Linked DNA regions of Homo sapiens. The protein of the gene in region 3 purifies or fractionates together with the protein of the main gene of each other region. This does not show direct contact. Each region holds a gene or a part of one and is shown on either strand. Other genes may lie near its edges. The genes, in order: TRIM22, VPS33A and PLEKHM1.

Region 1 (4,695 bases), on a different chromosome or scaffold from region 3:
GTGTTGGGAGATCACAGAGTTAGGGTCGACGGAGGCCTTAGGAATAAGAGTTTGCAATATCAGAACCCCATGACTTCACTCACTTTATTCAAACCTCTGTCTCTGTTGTTTCCATATTGCATAGATGCCTGTCTTATTGCAGTGAGGCTCTGCCCTTTTTATATGCCAGACTCCAAATTTTTCAGAGACAGCGCCTTTATGTTTGTTTTCCTCCCTGAGAATAAAATAAACAATAACTTTCTAGGTGGTGCTTTTTAGATTTCTAGAAAAATAGATTCAAGTCTTGAGGAATAGTGGCTTTGGTCCTGGTGCTAGCATAACCTTTTCTTGCTCACATACTTTACCGTCTTGTAGGAAAAAATAATATTCTTGTGTCTAAAGTTGCCCACCTACTTGGCAACATCAAAGTTTTTTTAAACACATGAAAATCAGACCACTATTAATTAATTTAGTCATCGTAATTTGTCTTTCCCCAAATAACTTGAAACCTCAGACATTATTCTCTAGGTCTCATATTGGGATAACAGATTTTGGAAACCCTTTAGCTCTTCAATATAGGATCCTACTTTGATATCTCTCAACAACTCAGGAGACAGATTCTATGGCCTCCTTAATGACCACCTGTCTAGGAACCCACATCTCTGGCCTCTTCCTGGTGGACCCACTGAGATGGCAATGACTTTTCTAAATATTAAATAAGTTTTTTAGAGGCACTGAATATCTTTTAAAAGCATTATTGGCTGGGTGCAGTGGGTCACGCCTACAATGCTAGCACTTTGGGAAGCCGAGGCAGGCGGATCACTTGAGGTCAGAAGTTCAAAACCAGCCTGGCCAACATGGTGAAACCCTGTCTCTACTAAAAGTACAAAAAAATTAGCTGGATGTGGTAGCAGGCACCTGTAATCCCAGCTACTTGGGAGGCTGAGGCAGGAGAATGGCTTGAACCTGGGAGGCAGAGGTTGCAGTGAGCCGAGGTCGCGCCACTACACTCCAGCCTGGATAACAGAGTGAGACCCCATCTCAAAACAAACAAACAAACAAACAAACAAAAGCATTATTATTTTATCTAATTTTATATTCATTTTTAAGAGGTAGAAAGCATGGGGTTAATTATTGCATTTTAAAAGTAAGAAAGCGAACATCGTTGAAGTGAAGACCTTCCCAAGATTACACAGAGGGGAAGACCTTCCCAAGATTACACACAGACAGGTAGACATGAGCACATTTCTCTGGACTCCAGTGTCAGGCATCTCCCCTCTACTGTCCTCAGGGAAGAGGGTCCAAGTGCGTCAGCAAGTATGGTGAAAGGTGAAAGAGACAGTGATCTTGGATGGAGAGAAATAGGGCAAAGGTGTAAAGGTTATCAATTTTTGTTATCACTAGGAGTGAAAGCTGGACATTGAAGAAGCCAAAATCTGTTTCCAAGAAACTAAAGAGTGTATTCCGAGTACCAGATCTGAGTGGGATGCTGCAAGTTCTTAAAGGTAAGGGGATTCAGGGGAAGGCTGTGAATGTGGATTTCTTAGTATCAGGGCTCAATAGGGAAGCGGGAGGTTTTTTTAGGTTAGGATATAGGAGAGGAGGTGGGCCAGAGAAGGAGGAAAATCCTGTGCTGTAGATGTGGTCCTGTCTTAGGGGGAATGACCAGGTGTCTGATTCATCCTCTCATTCACCAGTGCAAAGAATCCCAGTATTCCCCCTTTCCTTTCCCTACTCTGGAGAAGAGACAGGTGTCAGTACTTACTTATTTGCTTCTAACAACATCACTGAAACTTTTGTCGTTTCAGAGCTGACAGATGTCCAGTACTACTGGGGTAAGATGATATGGGGTTTTCAAATCACTTCCTTTCAGAATTGTGGTTACTATTAGATCTCATAATCTGAGTCTCATGTGTTCCTCCCCAAACATGCTTAAACCATGTAGTTCTTTTTTTTTTTTTTTTTAAGATAGATTTTTGCTATTGTTGCCCAGGCTGGAGTGCAATGGCGCGGTCTCGGCTCACTGCAACCTCTGCCTCCTGGGTTCAAGCGATTCTGCTGCCTCAGCCTCCCAAGTAGCTGGGATTACAGGCGTGTGCCACCACGCTTGGCTAATTTTTATAGTCTTACACCCTGTATTTCTTAAGGGTCCTACTAACCTCTGACTATCAACACAAGTTCCGTTTGATATCGACACAAGTTTCATTTTCAATATGTCTCTTCTCAATGCTGTAAGACACACCTATCCCATATCCTTCACTTGACTTGGTAATTTTTTCTACAGTGGACGTGATGCTGAATCCAGGCAGTGCCACTTCGAATGTTGCTATTTCTGTGGATCAGAGACAAGTGAAAACTGTACGCACCTGCACATTTAAGAATTCAAATCCATGTGATTTTTCTGCTTTTGGTGTCTTCGGCTGCCAATATTTCTCTTCGGGGAAATATTACTGGGAAGTAGATGTGTCTGGAAAGATTGCCTGGATCCTGGGCGTACACAGTAAAATAAGTAGTCTGAATAAAAGGAAGAGCTCTGGGTTTGCTTTTGATCCAAGTGTAAATTATTCAAAAGTTTACTCCAGATATAGACCTCAATATGGCTACTGGGTTATAGGATTACAGAATACATGTGAATATAATGCTTTTGAGGACTCCTCCTCTTCTGATCCCAAGGTTTTGACTCTCTTTATGGCTGTGCCTCCCTGTCGTATTGGGGTTTTCCTAGACTATGAGGCAGGCATTGTCTCATTTTTCAATGTCACAAACCACGGAGCACTCATCTACAAGTTCTCTGGATGTCGCTTTTCTCGACCTGCTTATCCGTATTTCAATCCTTGGAACTGCCTAGTCCCCATGACTGTGTGCCCACCGAGCTCCTGAGTGTTCTCATTCCTTTACCCACTTCTGCATAGTAGCCCTTGTGCTGAGACTCAGATTCTGCACCTGAGTTCATCTCTACTGAGACCATCTCTTCCTTTCTTTCCCCTTCTTTTACTTAGAATGTCTTTGTATTCATTTGCTAGGGCTTCCATAGCAAAGCATCATAGATTGCTGATTTAAACTGTAATTGTATTGCCGTACTGTGGGCTGGAAATCCCAAATCTAGATTCCAGCAGAGTTGGTTCTTTCTGAGGTCTGCAAGGAAGGGCTCTGTTCCATGCCTCTCTCCTTGGCTTGTAGAAGGCATCTTGTCCCTATGACTCTTCACATTGTCTTTATGTACATCTCTGTGCCCAAGTTTTCCCTTTTTATTAAGACACCAGTCATACTGGCTCAGGGCCCACCGCTAATGCCTTAATGAAATCATTTTAACATTATATTCTCTACAAAGACCTTATTTCCAAATAAGATAATATTTGGAGGTATTGGGAATAAAAACTCCAACATATAAATTTGAGGAAGGCACGATTTCACTCATAACAATCTTACCCTTTCTTGCAAGAGATGCTTGTACATTATTTTCCTAATACCTTGGTTTCACTAGTAGTAAACATTATTATTTTTTTTATATTTGCAAAGGAAACATATCTAATCCTTCCTATAGAAAGAACAGTATTGCTGTAATTCCTTTTCTTTTCTTCCTCATTTCCTCTGCCCCTTAAAAGATTGAAGAAAGAGAAACTTGTCAACTCATATCCACGTTATCTAGCAAAGTACATAAGAATCTATCACTAAGTAATGTATCCTTCAGAATGTGTTGGTTTACCAGTGACACCCCATATTCATCACAAAATTAAAGCAAGAAGTCCATAGTAATTTATTTGCTAATAGTGGATTTTTAATGCTCAGAGTTTCTGAGGTCAAATTTTATCTTTTCACTTACAAGCTCTATGATCTTAAATAATTTACTTAATGTATTTTGGTGTATTTTCCTCAAATTAATATTGGTGTTCAAGACTATATCTAATTCCTCTGATCACTTTGAGAAACAAACTTTTATTAAATGTAAGGCACTTTTCTATGAATTTTAAATATAAAAATAAATATTGTTCTGATTATTACTGAAAAGATGTCAGCCATTTCAATGTCTTGGGAAACAATTTTTTGTTTTTGTTCTGTTTTCTTTTTGCTTCAATAAAACAATAGCTGGCTCTACTGAAGTCTCATTCTTCAGTTTCCAAAATCTTGCTGCAGATAATATGAGTTTCCATATGTCCAGTAAAGAAGGTCATGTCTAGGCTCAGCTGTCCTTGATAAGAGACAGCCTTATGCTGTTCAGATCTGTTTCTCGTAATGAAACACTTGTGTGTACCATTGCATTTACCATCCTAGGTACTTTTCTTTTTTTTTTTTTTTAAGTCTTTTTTCAAACACAGGATGAGTAGTAGAACTACCTAGGATAGCAAAGACACAAAACATTCTTGAAGAAATATATTGTATTAGTCGGGGTTCTCCAGAGAAACAGAACAATAAGAGATATGTATTTATTATGAGGAATTGGCTTACTTGATTATGGAGGCTAAGACTTCCCATTATCTGCCATTTGGAAACCAGAGACCCAAAAGCTGGTGATATAAGTCAGTGTGTCTCTGAAGCCCTAAGAACCAGGGAGCTGATGGTATAAATGCCAGTACAAAGGCAGAAAAAGATGAGGTGACATGTCTCAGCTCAAGTACTGCGGCAGGAAAAGAAGCAAATATCTTCTTCCTCAACCCTTTCTCCTACTCAGATCCTTTATGGATTAGATGATGTCCAGCAACTTGGGGGAGGGCAAGC
Region 2 (6,552 bases), on a different chromosome or scaffold from region 3:
AGCTCAGGAGTTTGAGAACAGCCTGACTAACATGGGAAACCCCATCTCTACTAAAAATACAAAAATTAGCCCAGCATTGTGGTGCGTGCCTGTAATCCCATCTACTTGGGGGGCTGAGGCAGGAGAATTGCTTGAACCTGGGAGGCGGAGGTTGTAGTGAGCTCAGATCATGCCATTGCACTCCAGCCTGGGCGACAGAGCAAGACTCTGTCTCAAAAAAAAAAAAAAAAAAGTTATGGGGCAGGCTCGGTGGCTCATTCTTGTAATCCCAGTATATTGGGAGGCTGAAGGGTCAGATCGCTTGAGTCCAGGAGTTCGAGACCAGCCTGGGCAACATGGCAAAACCTTGTCTCTACAAAAAAAATGGCCAGTGGTAGTATGAGCCTTTAGTCCGAGGGGCTGTGGTTAGAGGATCACTGAGCCCAGGAGGCGGTTGCAGTGAACCATGTTTGTGCCACTGCACTCCAGGCTGGGCTACACAGTAAGACTCTGTCTCAAATAAATAAAGATGTGGGAAGAGTGGAGAGGCAGTGCAGTGGGGAGCCCTTGCCAGCCACGGCCTGAAGGACAAGGAGAGGGGGGTGTTCTAGAAACTTGTCTTAGAACCTGGAGAGAAGAGCTGTGGTGAGGCCATCTGGTGAGGTAAGGGGTGAGGGGCCTCTGGCTGAGGGTATGGTCAACCTCCAGCAGAGGAAGCTGGCCAGTGACAACGTCATCCTCACACTGCTGCCCACTCTCCAGTTCACTCTGGTGCTTTGTCTTGGTCAGACCCAAAGAGAAGGCATTGGAGTGTGTTGGTGTGGGACGCACAGGTCCATCTCCGGGCACAGAGCATTGCGGAGAAGGGTGGAGAGTGTCTAGAGGAGTCAGTGGAGATGTCCAGCACTCATAAACAAGCCAGCCATGGCCAGGCGCGGTGGCTCACACCTGTAATTCCAGCACTTTGGGAGGCCAAGGCAGGAGGATCACTTGAGGTCAGGAGTTCAAGACCAGCCTGGCCAACATGGTGAAACCCTGTCTCTACTAAAAAATACAAAAGTGATCAGGGCATGGTGGAGCATGCATCTGTAGGCCCAGCTACTGTACTCAGAAGGCTGAGGTGGGAGCCTCCCAGGAGGCTGAGCCTGGGAGGTTGAGGCTACAGTGAGCTGAGATTGCACTGCTGCACTCCAGCATGGGCGACAGAATGAGACCCTATCTCAAAAAGAAAAAGAAAAAGGGAAAAAAAAAGCTATGCAAAAGCAGGGCCATCAGGGCCAAGTGAGTTTCCTTCCACAGTTTCCCCTCAGAGGCAGCCACTGTGGCCAGTTTTTTATCTATCCTTCCAGAAAGATTCTGTGCATATACATTTTTACATAAAGAGTGCATATTCTCTACTGTTGGTCTCCAAAGTGGGGTGCACTTTGCTTTACATTTATTACTTATTCTAATGTTTCTAAATTTCAGTCTTTTTTGGTTTTTCATAAGGAACTTTATTAGGCCGCCTCTTGCAACAAAAGCTCATAACTAGACAGTCTCCTCTGTCAGGAGCAAAATTAAATGATTTTTTCCCGGTGGGAAAATAGAGACCCTTAATGTCTAGAGTCTATCATGTACATATTAGTTCAGCTGTCTTCACTGTTCTGACCTTTCTGACTCTGGACCCACCCACCACTTAACAAAGGATCTTGAAGGGTCTTCTGTGATCTTCCCCTTCTTTTTAATTTTTCTAAATTGCTACATAGTGGTTTTGAGGCTATACCTTATTTAATGATTTAACAGATTGCTATTGATAGAAATTCAGGTTGTTTCCAGTCTTTACTGTTACATGCAGTGTTGCAGTTAATACGTTTATACTTTGGTCTATTATCTTTTGTTCTGCAAGCACCTCTGTAGGATTAATGCCTAAAAGTAGAATTGCTAAGTTCAAAGGTTATTGCACATCATTGCTCAGCTAGGGAGTGCCAAGTTCCCCCCAATATGTTTCATGCTGGCTGGACGCGGTGGCTCAGGCCTGTAATCCCAACACTTTGGGAGGCCGAGGCAGGTGGATCACCTGAGGTCAGAAATTCAAGACCAGCCTGGCCAACATGGTGAAACCCTGTCTCTACTAAAAATACAACAATGAGCCAGGAGTGGTGGTGCACACCTGTAATCCCAGCTCTTTGGGAGCCTGAGGCAGGAGAATTGCTTGAACTAGGGAGGCGGAGGTTGCAGTGAGCTGAAATTATGCCACTGCACTCCAGCCTGGGTGACAGAGCCAGACTCTGTCTCAAAAAAAAAAAAAAAGTTTCATGCCAAACCAAATAATTCTTCATCTTCTGTACCTAGAGCTGCTTTGAGTGGCTTTTCAAGATTTCAGTCAAAATTGAAGCTCTGGCTGCTAAAAATTGAGCCCAGCTAGGGTGGATTAGAACAAGGCATGGCAGGGGTGGGGGTTGTATATCTTTAAATCCAAATCAAATAATTTTGGATTACCCAAAAGGCCACAGTCAGGTAGCTCTAAGTCTCTGTATCTATAGGGTTTTTGTTCTTTAATTATCTCACAGAACCCCACGGACATATCGTATGTGTACAGTGGGTATGCCCCGCTCAGTGTGCGGCTGGCCCAGCTGCTTTCCCGGCCTGGCTGGCGGAGCATCGAGGAGGTCCTCCGCATCCTCCCAGGGCCCCACTTTGAGGAGCGGCAGCCACTGCCCACAGGACTGCAGAAGAAACGTAAGTCCCAGTCCAGCATCTACAGATAATTATGTACTGTTAGTGTGGTTTTCAGGTATTGTACAGTTGCTTTGTAAAATAGTAAAGCACTTAGGAGTCAGAATTAAATACACCTCTTTTGTTCGTTGCTAATGTATGTAGTAAGAACTCGAATCGGATTATTCCCTGAGGGATAGCAGCTTTCAACTTCTGTGTTGAGAATCTCAGAAGTTAAAAAAAAATGTTGAGATCAAAATCAGTATTCTTAGGTTTCAGATGAACTGTCTGGATGAAGGCACTTGTTTATTCTTATGAATGATAAAATGTTTGAAGAGGTGGGAAGAGAAGCATTAATAATAAATAGTTTTTAATTCTGAAATGTTTAAATTTTAGGTCAACCGGGAGAAAACCGAGTGACTCTGATATTTTTCCTTGGGGGCGTAACCTTCGCTGAAATTGCTGCCCTGCGATTTCTCTCCCAGTTGGAAGATGGAGGTACAGAATATGTCATTGCCACCACTAAACTAATGAATGGAACCAGTTGGATAGAGGCTCTGATGGAAAAACCTTTCTAGGATGTTCAGAGGAGACTTAACAAGTGTACTGCAGAATAAACTACCTCTTTGAAGAAATTGCTGAAAGGAAGTAAAACCCCATAGAAGAAACATGGGAATACAGAATATATTCTGGGGTCAGCTTCTTAAATTATACTACTGTTTACTGCTTTCTCCGTCTCTTTTGTATTCCCTTTTTTTTTTTCCTTTGAGACGGAGTCTTGCTCTGTCACCCAGACTAGAGTGCAGTGGCACGGTCTCACCTCACTGCAACCTCCACCTCCTAGGTTCAAGCAATTCTCCTGCCTCAGCCTCCTGAGTAGCTGGGACTACAGGCATGCACCACCACACCCGGCTAATTTTTGTATTTTTAGTAGCCATGGTGTTTCACCATGTTGGCCAGGCTGGTCTCAAACTCCTGACCTCAGGTGATCCACCTGCCTCGGCCTCCCACAGTGCTGGGATTACAGGCCTGAGCCACCGTGCCTGGCCCCTAATCTGCTGAAGAAAGAAGAATAGAAGAAAATCAACCTGAGTAAAAGCAGCACTGGTTTTGAGTTTTCTAAGCTCAGGGTCTTCATTAGAGACCTCTGGAAATACATTAAGGATGGTGGGGGTAGATAATCCATTCAGCCAGACAAACGGGGCCAGCTCTTAAAATAAGAAAGCTGAGACTGAGGAGGTGAAACTGAAAATAAAAAGAGAAAGTTCATCCTCTAATCCCCAGTGCTGTATTTCTTCAAGGCGCATCAGGCCTAGGACAGTGGTTAAGTGTTGGGAGCTGGAGATCATTTTATCACTGAGTTGAGATTTCTTTTTCCTGCAGAGTGTGGGAGATTATATTTAGGGTCATCAGTCACTGTCGCAACTGATCACTAAGGCAAGTTTGCTTCCTTCTACTTCTTACAAAGCAAGAGGTTTAGGGGAGCTTCTTGCCCAGAAACAAAGTTTATGCTCTATGTGATCAGCTACATCTCCTTAGGTTCCATACTTATCAGGGGCTTTTGACATGGAAGAATGTGATAATTGGGGAGCAACCTTCTGAGAATTCAGCCTTTGAAGTAATTCAAAGACAGTTTCTTAGCACACACGTTAACTCCAGACACAGCAGTGGTGGGTGCCTCCATTGAGGTTTCCGTTTTCTCTTCTGTCCATCAAGGGCCCAACATCCAACTGGTCCCACAGTGAGCAGGGGCAACTCTTGCTTCTTCAGCATCTGGCCACTTCGTTTCCATGGTAACTGCCACGTGTACTTTTCTAGCAGTCTGTGGCCACTCCGTACTCAGCTGAAAACACTGTTTCAGCCCCCTCTCTGGTGACCTCAGCCTTCTCCAGGTGTATCTCTTGATGATCTTGGAGACCAGCAGCCACAGCTGCTGCTACTCCTGCAGGAGACTGTCAGGCTGTGGTGGGGGGCAGGGGTGTTGGAGGAGAAGTTGAAAATCCGTGTGTTCTCTGCCCCTCTGCTCCTCCATCTTAGCTTCTGGAGGAGTTAAGGCACCAAGGGCACCAAGTCAGGTTGGCAGTTTTGCTGCCCTTGCCCAAGCCTCCAGCAAAACTAGCTGGTCCCCTGCTTTGCTGGGTCCCAGCCAGGTGTGATTTTGGTTGTTGATTAGTAACCACACATTGTTTTTCCCCACCTTTTTCATTAGTGGAGGTTTTTGTTTTGTTTTGTTTTTGTTTGTTTGAGACAGAGTCTCACGCTCTTTTCAGACTGGAGTGCAGTGGTGCGATGTCAGCTCACTGCAACCTCCACTTCCCGGGTTCAGACGATTCTCATGCCTCAGCCTCCTGAGTAGCTGGGATTACAGATGTGCACCACCACACCTGGCTAATTTTTGTATTTTTAGTAGAGATGGGGTTTCACCATATTGGCCAGGCTGGTCTCAAACTCCTGACCTCAGGCGATTGGCCCACCTCGGCCTCCCAAAGTGCTGGGATTACAGGTGTGAACCACCGTGCCCGGCCCATTAGTGGAGTTCTGATGGGCACGGTAAATATTATTAATGAAAGAGAAATTCTGTATACTTTTTTAAAAATCTCTTTAATGAAAGAATGAAGAGTGGCAGAGATAATAATTGAAAGATTAGTTTCTCATGGAATTAATTTGGCCTTGATATTCAGTATTTGGAAATGTCTTAAAGAAAACCATTTTCATTGTAGAAAATCCTTTTTTAAATACTTGTTATATCCCAGGGAGATTAGTTTATACCTTCCACCTCAGGCAGTCATCAGCTGCTTTAGAGAATGGAATCCACCCTGCCCCTCCATTTTTTGGTTCCTGGGGCTCAATTCAAGTCTGGTCAAGTCTCCCTGGCTGGGGATTCTGTCCTGGGAACAGATACTCAGTTGTAGTCTCATGTGTCTGCACTCACCCAAGACTCTATATACTTGCTTGCTCAGAGCATAGTTAGGGCAGCTCCTAAAAATGCATTCAGCAGAAGACTGAAAAACTTCAATTGCTTCATTTGTATGCAAATAGAAAATGGTAGATAATTATATATTATACGCCTTTGTGTAAGTTCATTTAATACTTGAAGCAGTCTTTGTCTCAAAAGAGTATGCCCTTACTGAGAAAGGATATGTGAACGGTACATTTATTGTTGGGGAGAGTGGATTGTTTACATCATGTCTGGACTTTTGTCTAGTTGGGTAGACAGTTCTACACCAGCAGCCCCCTTAATAAAGAAGTCTACACAGACACTGTTTTGTGTCTTGCTATAGAGTGTTGAATTCTAACCAACAGAGAATTAAGTATTTTGTTAATTGTGGAGCAAAAGAGTAATGGTTGAAAGAGGGATGATTTAAAACAGCACATTTAATTCTCAGAGAAAACTGGGACAGTCTCATTGTGAGTTCTATTCGATTCAGATCTGCCCTCACTGCAAATGGATTATGATTAAGCATGATGTGTTGGTCGGTCTTGTTCTCAGTTGTACACTAAAGACCAGCCTGTCACCAGGAGGAAGTGTTTGTATTGAGCAGAGTTTAATTCAAGAAGAAATTATTTTTTTGAGATGAGGTCTTATTCTGTTGCCCAGGCTGGAGTGCAGTGGCACAATCATAGCTCACCACAGCCTTGAACTTCTGGGCTCAAGCAGTCCTCCTGCCTCAGTCTCACGAGTAGCTGGGACTATAGCAAAGCACCACCACACCCAGCAATTTTTTTTTCTTCCTTTTAGAGACAGGGTCTTTGTTGCTCAAACTCCTGGCCTCAAGAGAAATAATTCTTTTTTTCTTTTTCATTAAATTTATTATCTTTTTAATTTTCTGTTGGCTAGGGTGGTCTCGAACTCCTAGCTTTAAGCAGCCCTCCTGCCTC
Region 3 (7,121 bases):
TCCGCCTCCTGGGTCCACACCATTCTCCTGCCTCAGCCTCCTGAGTAGCTGGGACTTCAGGCGCCCGCCACCACGCCCGGCTAATTTTTTGTATTTTTAGTAGAGATGGGGTTTCACCGTGTTAGCCAGAAAGGTCTCGATCTCTTGCCTTTGTGATCCGCCCGCCTCGGCCTCCCAAAGTGCTGGGATTACAGGCGTGAGCCACTGCGCCCAGCTGAAAATCTTTATACTGGTATTTGTTGTAGATGCATTTAGAAATTTGGAAGAATATACAGGAAATTATTATGGTTTTAGGGGTGGGAGGAAAGAACAGGGTAGAGGGAGAACAGGAATGGGAAAGGCTTTCACTGTATATGTTTTAGATTTTTTTTAACCATAAAAAGATTATCTATGCAAATTTTTTATTTTATTTATTTATTTATTTTTTTTTTTTGAGACAGAGTCTTACTCTGTCACCCAGGCTGGAGTGCAGTGGTGCGGTCTCAGCTCACTGCAAGCTCCACCTCCCGGGTTCATGCCATTCTCCTGCCTCAGCCGCCCATGTAGCTGGGACTACAAGGCGCCCGCCACCATGCCCAGCTAATTTTTTGTATTTTTAGTAGAGACGGGGTTTCACCATGTTAGTCAGGATGGTCTCAATCTCCTGACCTTGTGATCCACCTGCCTTGGCCTCCCAAGGTGCTGGGATTACAGGCGTGAGCCACCGTGCCCAGCTGCAAAAAAATGTTTAAAAGGCTGTGTGAAGAAGGCTCTGCCCAGTTCTCTCTTCAGCCTAGTTCATCTGCCCCACATACTCTTCCACACATCTGTCTGTCCCCACCTGTCCACCACCTCCTGCATGCAGCACTCAGGTCCTGTGTCCCCCAGGAGGTATTCTGTGAAGTCACACTCTTATGCGTTATGTTTCATCTATTTGTTGGACGTTTTAAATGTACTCTGACCTATTAGTTTCCTTCCTTCTAGATGAAGACAACAATATTTTACACTGTGCCTTGTAGAGACTAAGTATCTTGTTTTTTTGTTGTTATTGTTTGTTTTCAGTTTTTGTTTTATTTATTTATTTATTTTTAATTTAGAGGCAGGATCTTGCTACATTGCCCAGGCTGGCCTCGAACTGCTGGGCTCAAGCAATCCTCCTGTATCAGCCTCCCAAGTGCTGGGATTTCAGGCATGAGCCACCGCACCCGGCCAAGTAACTTGCTAAAAGTCACCGGGGCAGAGCTGGAGCCCAAACCAGCTCTAAGCTGTTCTAAGTCCACTTTCTCCACTATGCCTGTATTGCCTGCTACAGTTCCCAGCTACTCCAGTCCCTGGAGAAGTCGATGACTCCCTTGGCTTTCTTTAATTACTAATAGAGTTCAGTAACAGACAATCACATGCTATGGGAAGAAAGGGAGGAGGAGAGGAAAGAAAGGAGGGAAGAGAGAAGATGGGAAGGAGTGGGGGCAGCGTACTCACTCTTGCAGAGACCGGTCTGAGTCCTCAGCATTTGCTGTGCCCAGGTCTGAGTCACAGGACATGGGCTCCTCGCAATGGTCTGGACTCTTGGAGCCATTCTCTTGGAGTAAGCAGCTATCAGAGTTTAGGCTGCAGGACAGCTGGGATGAACTGGCCGTGTCCAGGCTGAGGGAGGAGGCAGTCAGCTTCTGGTTCCTCCGTATCTTATGGCCCGAGTGATGGACTTCGATGTCTTCAGAGCCTGAAGAATGGGAAATGGAATCCAGAGATTCCTTCCGCTGTAGTTCTGCACCAGAGGTAGAGAGAGGGTCCAGCTCAGAAAGCGGGCAAAGCCCAGACAGGGCCAATGGGGTGAGCGTCCACTCATTTAAGATGGCAGACTTGTAGGAGAGTTCGAAGGACAAGGACGTGAGGCCCTGCAGGAAGCTAAGGAGGAACTCGCCCTCCTCAGCATCCCGGAGCAGGGCGGTGGGCTGGTAGTACTCATGCAAGCGGGCCTGCTCCTGCAGCAGCAGCTTCAGGTAGCACTCCATCAGGCCATCGTTCAGGGCCAGCCGCAGCCATGCCCGGCAGCGGCCCACATCCGTGTTGACAAACGTCAGGTGCTCCAACTCTGAGATGATGTGTCTGGGAAGGGAGAACAGACGTGTTTCAAGAAACTACCCCAAATCACAGAGATGTGCTTTTATCCACTGGTTAGCAGGAACCAGGAATAACTACTGCAAATAGATACAGGCATGAAAAAATATTGGGTAATAGTGTTTTAGGCCAGATGTGGTGGCTCACACCTGTAATCCCAGCACTTTGGGAGGCCAAGGCAGGTGGATCACTTGAGCTCAGGAATTCGTGACCAGCCTGGGCAACAGGACGAAACTCTGTCTCTACAACAACAACATAGCCAGATGTGGTGGCTTGCACGTGTAGTCCCAGCTACCCAGCTACTCGGGAGGTTGAGGTGGAAGGATAGCTTGAGCCTGGGAAGCAAAGGTCACAGTGAGCGGAGATTGGACCACTGCACTCCAGCCTAGGCAATATATATATATATATTTATATTTATATATAATAAATATATAAATATAAATTATATATATTTATACATTATATATATATATATATTTTGAGATTGGAATTGTGAAAGATAATTTCCATGTTCATTCCAACTACCACGGGGCCCCTGACACATCTGCTCATCTAAGGCATGCTGTCAGAGCTCCTTAAGTGCAAAGTCCTTGGAGCAATGAAGATGCAGGGTAAAGACATGGTCCCTGCCCTCAGGCACAAGGGACTGATGGAAAAAGGCATAAAGTGTAGGAAATCAACAACCCTGTAAGAGGATTGGGGAGCGCTCCAATTACAGCATGTGGCGGAAAAGTGGGTGGTTTGGTTGCAAGGCCAGGAAAGAGAGGGTCTTAAATATCAAATCAATAAGGCAACACGGGGTAATGGCCCCACACCCAGCTGTGCACCAGAACCCCCTGGGGAACTTGAGCAGGATACAAGTTCTGGGACCCCAACCTAGTGAATCAGTCTCCAGGCTAGCATCTGGGAGCCTGTAGGCTACAGATTTTTGTTTAGAAAAGTGACTTGACCACAGTCATGCAGACTGCAGGGTAGATGTTCTGCATAAGGAGATCAGACCCCAGGTGTACCAAACTCAGTCCCAGAATGCCTCCGTCTGATGTACATGCCCCTCTGAGCTACCACAGTCCCTAGCGCAGGTTTATCTCCTCCATGGGAATGTAGACCGCACTCTACTAGGCTCAGTGAGTAAGCTCCAGGGAGCTTCAGCTCAGTAAATGTTGACCAGATGATGGACTCAAGGAAAGACAGAGTGAGATAAGGGGGACAAATAGAAAGCCAGTGTCACCCAGGAAAGAAGAACGTGAGACAAGGCAGTGGCAATCTGCATGGAAAGGAAGATTAGAGACTGACAAGGCTTCTTTTGGGCTGAAGGTGGCATTTAGTAGTCCTCAGAGGCACAGTGCCAGCTACTTGCTCAAAAGCCCAGACAGTTAGGGGCCAAAGAGATAAGTGTCTCAGGGTGAATATTCATATGCTTTTCCTGATTCCACTCTTTATATAATCCCAGCACTTTGGGAGGCGGAGGTAGGCAGATCACAAGGTCAGGAGTTTGAGAGCAGCCTGACCAACATAGCAAAACCCCTCTCTACTAAAAATACAAAAATTAGCTGGGCGTGATGGTGCGCGCCTGTTGTCCCAGTTACTCAGGAGGCTGAGGCAGGAGAATTGCTTGAACCTGGGAAGCAGAGGTGCCAGTGAACCGAGATCGCGCCATTGCACTCCAGCCTGAGTGACAGAGCGAAACTCCATCCCAAAAAAAAAAAAAAAGATTTACAATTCGGATGTTTGAATAATCTAAGGCAGGGTCAGCAAATCCAAGGCAGGGTCAGCCCTTCTGTAAAGGGCCAGATAGTATATTCTTCAGGCTTTGCAGGCCACACAACCTCTGTTGTAACTATGTAACTCTGCCCCAGTGTGGCAAAAAAGGCTGTTCCTGCTAAAGGTGGCCAGTCTCACCTGCTTTTTGTGACCAGTCTCAAAGCAGCCACAGGCTCTTGCCTGAGTGCTGAGGGTCTCAAGATCTGCTGGCACACTGGCTGGGAAGCTTGGTCTAGAGATAAGCCTTTCTAGAAGACACTTTCAACCCCTACCTCACCCTCTCTCTATGCTAGAACACAGGGCACCTCTGTTGGCTTCCTGAACAGCTGGGGAGGAAAAGCCAAGTGTCCCATAGTCTGCTGCTCCTCCGCAAAGCAAAACCTCTCCAGCTAAATCTCACTTGTGGGTGACAGCTTTCAGGAGGGGCCAGAAGACAGGCTGGGGCAGAGGCTTCTGGTGGGCACTTTTCTTCCTTTTTCCTCCGGCCTCAGCTCGGATGTGCTTGGCGTGCAGGCCATGGATAAATACGGCCTCCAGGGCGCTGCACATGGTGTTGGCATCTCCGTCTTCACTAGTGACCACCGTGTCCAGGGACACGTACTGCTTCTGCAAGGCCTTCACGGATCCCACCAGCTTCTTCTTGATGACCTAGGCAGCACCACACAGAACACAGGCCTTTAGCGGAAAATCCTATGGAGAGTCCCTAGAGTGTAATCCTTTAGCTGGTGCCAAATACGTGTGCAACCACATGCACACACATCTATGTGTGTGTCTGTAGATTCCTTCTGCAAAATTAGCACATTGTTAACTACAGCAAAGAAAGATAAAGCATAGAGAAGAAAAGGAAAATCACACACACTACCCAGAGATAATTACTGTTATTGTTTGTTTCATATGTCCTTTAGTATAGATACTTTTTGTTTTTTAGACCAAACTTAAGTGAACTTAGAGCCATATAATCTTGTGTTTAAATATTGGCCCCATCATAGCTGCAGTGATGGGAGCTTGGGTAAATCCATCTAGGACAAGGGTGGGGCTTCCCACCTTTTTTACATGGACAAGCTTCTGTAGAGAATCAATAAGCCAAGAGGCAAAAACAAACAAACAATAAACACCCACACTGCTTTAGAACAATAAAAACATGAGGAGAACAGGAGCATGGTTTACTTTAAGAAAGATCCTAGGCTGGGCGTGGTGGCTCAAACCTGTAATCCCAGAACTTTGGGAGGTCAGAGGCAGGAGGACTGCTTGAGTCCAGGAGTTCAAGGCTGCAGTGAGCTGTGATCACACCACTGTACTCCAGCCTGGGCAACATAGCAAGACCTTGTCTCAAAAAAAGAAAGATCCTAGGCCTGGAAGCCAGAGGACTAGGCTCAGTCCTAGCTGCCAGTAACCAGATGGGCCTCCTCAGACATTCCACTTAACCGCTTTGAGCCTCAATTTCCTTATCTGTTAAAGTGGAAATAATACTTTCTGATTTATAGTACTATGAGGATTCTCCTGAGGACAGGACTACCTTTTTTTTTCTTTTTTTTTTTGGGAAGTGGTTTCTGGTGAAAACCAGAAAACCTACTAGATAAATTCTAAAAAGAGGCTGGGTGTGGTGGCTCACACCTGTAATCCCAACACTTTGGGAGGCCAAGGCAGGCGGATCACTTGAGGTTAGGAGTTTGAGATCAGCCTGGCAAACATGATGAAACCCTGTCTCTACTAAAAATGCAAAAATTAGCCAGGTGTGGGCCGGGCACGGTGGCTCACGCCTGTAACCCCAGCACTTTGGGAGGCCGAGGTGGGCGGATCACGAGGTCAGAAGATCGAGACCATCCTGGATAACAGGCTGAAACCCCATCTCTACTAAAAATGCAAAAAAATAGCTGGGCGTGGTGGCAGCGCCTGTAGTCCCAGCTACGCGGGAGGCTGAGGCAGGAGAATGGCGTGAACTCAGGAGGCGGAGTTTCCAGTGAGCCAAGATCGCACCACTGCACTCCAGCCTGGGCGACAGAGCGAGACTCCGCCTCAAAAAAAAAAAAAAAAAAAATAGCCAGGTGTGGTGGTGAGTGCCTGTAATCCCAGCTACTTAGGAGGCTGAGGCAGGAGAATCACTTAAACCCAGGAGGCAGAGGTTGTACTGAGCCAAAATCGTGCCACTGCATTCCAGCCTGGGTGGCAGAGTGAGACTCCATCTCAGAAAAACAAAACAAAACAAAACAAAACAAAACAAAAAACATATATATAAAAGAGCTGAGTGTGGCACTAAGACTAGTGTTTTATTCATCCTTGTGTCAACACTTGGCACTGTGCCTGGCACATAGAAATACTCAATAAATGTTTGTTAAATGATACACCACAAAATGTACATAGAGTCTTTTGGAAATATAGAGTAAAAATTGAGCATAATTATAAGCATGTGAAAATCACATAAGTGATTGGAAAAGGACTGGAAGGGATTACAGAAAAACTGGTTTGAATTGTTGGGTGATAGGATTATGGCTACATATTTTAATCTTTTATTTTGATTTCAGCCAAAACACTAAATGTTAACATTCTTTGAAAAGTTAAATTTGAAAAAATATAACGGTTTTAATGAGATATAATTCATATACCATAAAATACACCCATTTAAAGTATACAGTTCAATTGTTTCTAGTATATTCACACAATTGTGCAACCATCACCACTACCTAATTTTAGAAGATTTTCTGGCCGGGCACAGTGGCTCACGCCTATAATCCCAGCACTTCGGGAGGCCAAGACGAGTGGATCACCTGAGGTCAGGAGTTCGAGACCAGCCTGGCCAACATGGTGAAACCCCCATCTCTACCAAAAATACAAAAATTAGCCGGGCATGGTGGTGCACACCCATAATCCCAGCTACTTGGGAGGCAGAGGCATGAGAATCACTTGAACCTGGGAGGTGGAGTTTGTAGTGAGTCAAGATTGTGCCACTGCACTCCAGCCTGGGCAGCAGAGGGAGACTCCGTCTCAAAAAAACAAAAAAACAAAAAAACAAAAAAACAAACAAAAAAAACGATTTTCATCACCCCAAAAAGAAATACTGTATATTAGTGATTGCCAGGGGCTGGGAGAAAGGGGAATACGAAGTGAATGCAGTCACTAATCTATTTTCTGTTTCTGTGGCTTTGCATATTTTGTACATCTCACATGAATAGATATCAATACAGCATATGACCCTTTGAATCTGACTTATTTCACTTAGCATATTTTCCATCATGTTGTAGCATGTATCAGGACTTCATCCCTTT

What was found.
Region 1: the proteins of PLEKHM1 (region 3) and TRIM22 purify together in Homo sapiens (affinity purification with western blotting; 2 studies listed by BioGRID). This does not show direct contact.
Region 2: the proteins of PLEKHM1 (region 3) and VPS33A purify together in Homo sapiens (affinity purification with western blotting; 3 studies listed by BioGRID and IntAct, with this or other methods). This does not show direct contact.

Annotation. Positions count from the first base shown.
Region 1 is NC_000011.10:5,706,790-5,711,484, forward strand, and holds the end of TRIM22 (E3 ubiquitin-protein ligase TRIM22), read left to right. Parts: intron 1-1,383; coding exon 1,384-1,484; intron 1,485-1,787; coding exon 1,788-1,814; intron 1,815-2,263; coding exon 2,264-2,859; 3' UTR 2,860-4,074; downstream 4,075-4,695. UniProt on the Homo sapiens protein: Interferon-induced E3 ubiquitin ligase that plays important roles in innate and adaptive immunity.
Region 2 is NC_000012.12:122,228,945-122,235,496, reverse strand, and holds the end of VPS33A (vacuolar protein sorting-associated protein 33A), read left to right. Parts: intron 1-2,528; coding exon 2,529-2,697; intron 2,698-3,069; coding exon 3,070-3,251; 3' UTR 3,252-5,933; downstream 5,934-6,552.
Region 3 is NC_000017.11:45,473,642-45,480,762, forward strand, and holds part of PLEKHM1 (pleckstrin homology domain-containing family M member 1), read right to left. Parts: intron 5,448-7,121; exon of another isoform or gene 5,401-5,447; intron 4,507-5,400; coding exon 4,259-4,506; intron 4,247-4,258; exon of another isoform or gene 3,997-4,246; intron 2,273-3,996; exon of another isoform or gene 2,247-2,272; intron 2,086-2,246; coding exon 1,459-2,085; intron 1-1,458. UniProt on the Homo sapiens protein: Acts as a multivalent adapter protein that regulates Rab7-dependent and HOPS complex-dependent fusion events in the endolysosomal system and couples autophagic and the endocytic trafficking pathways.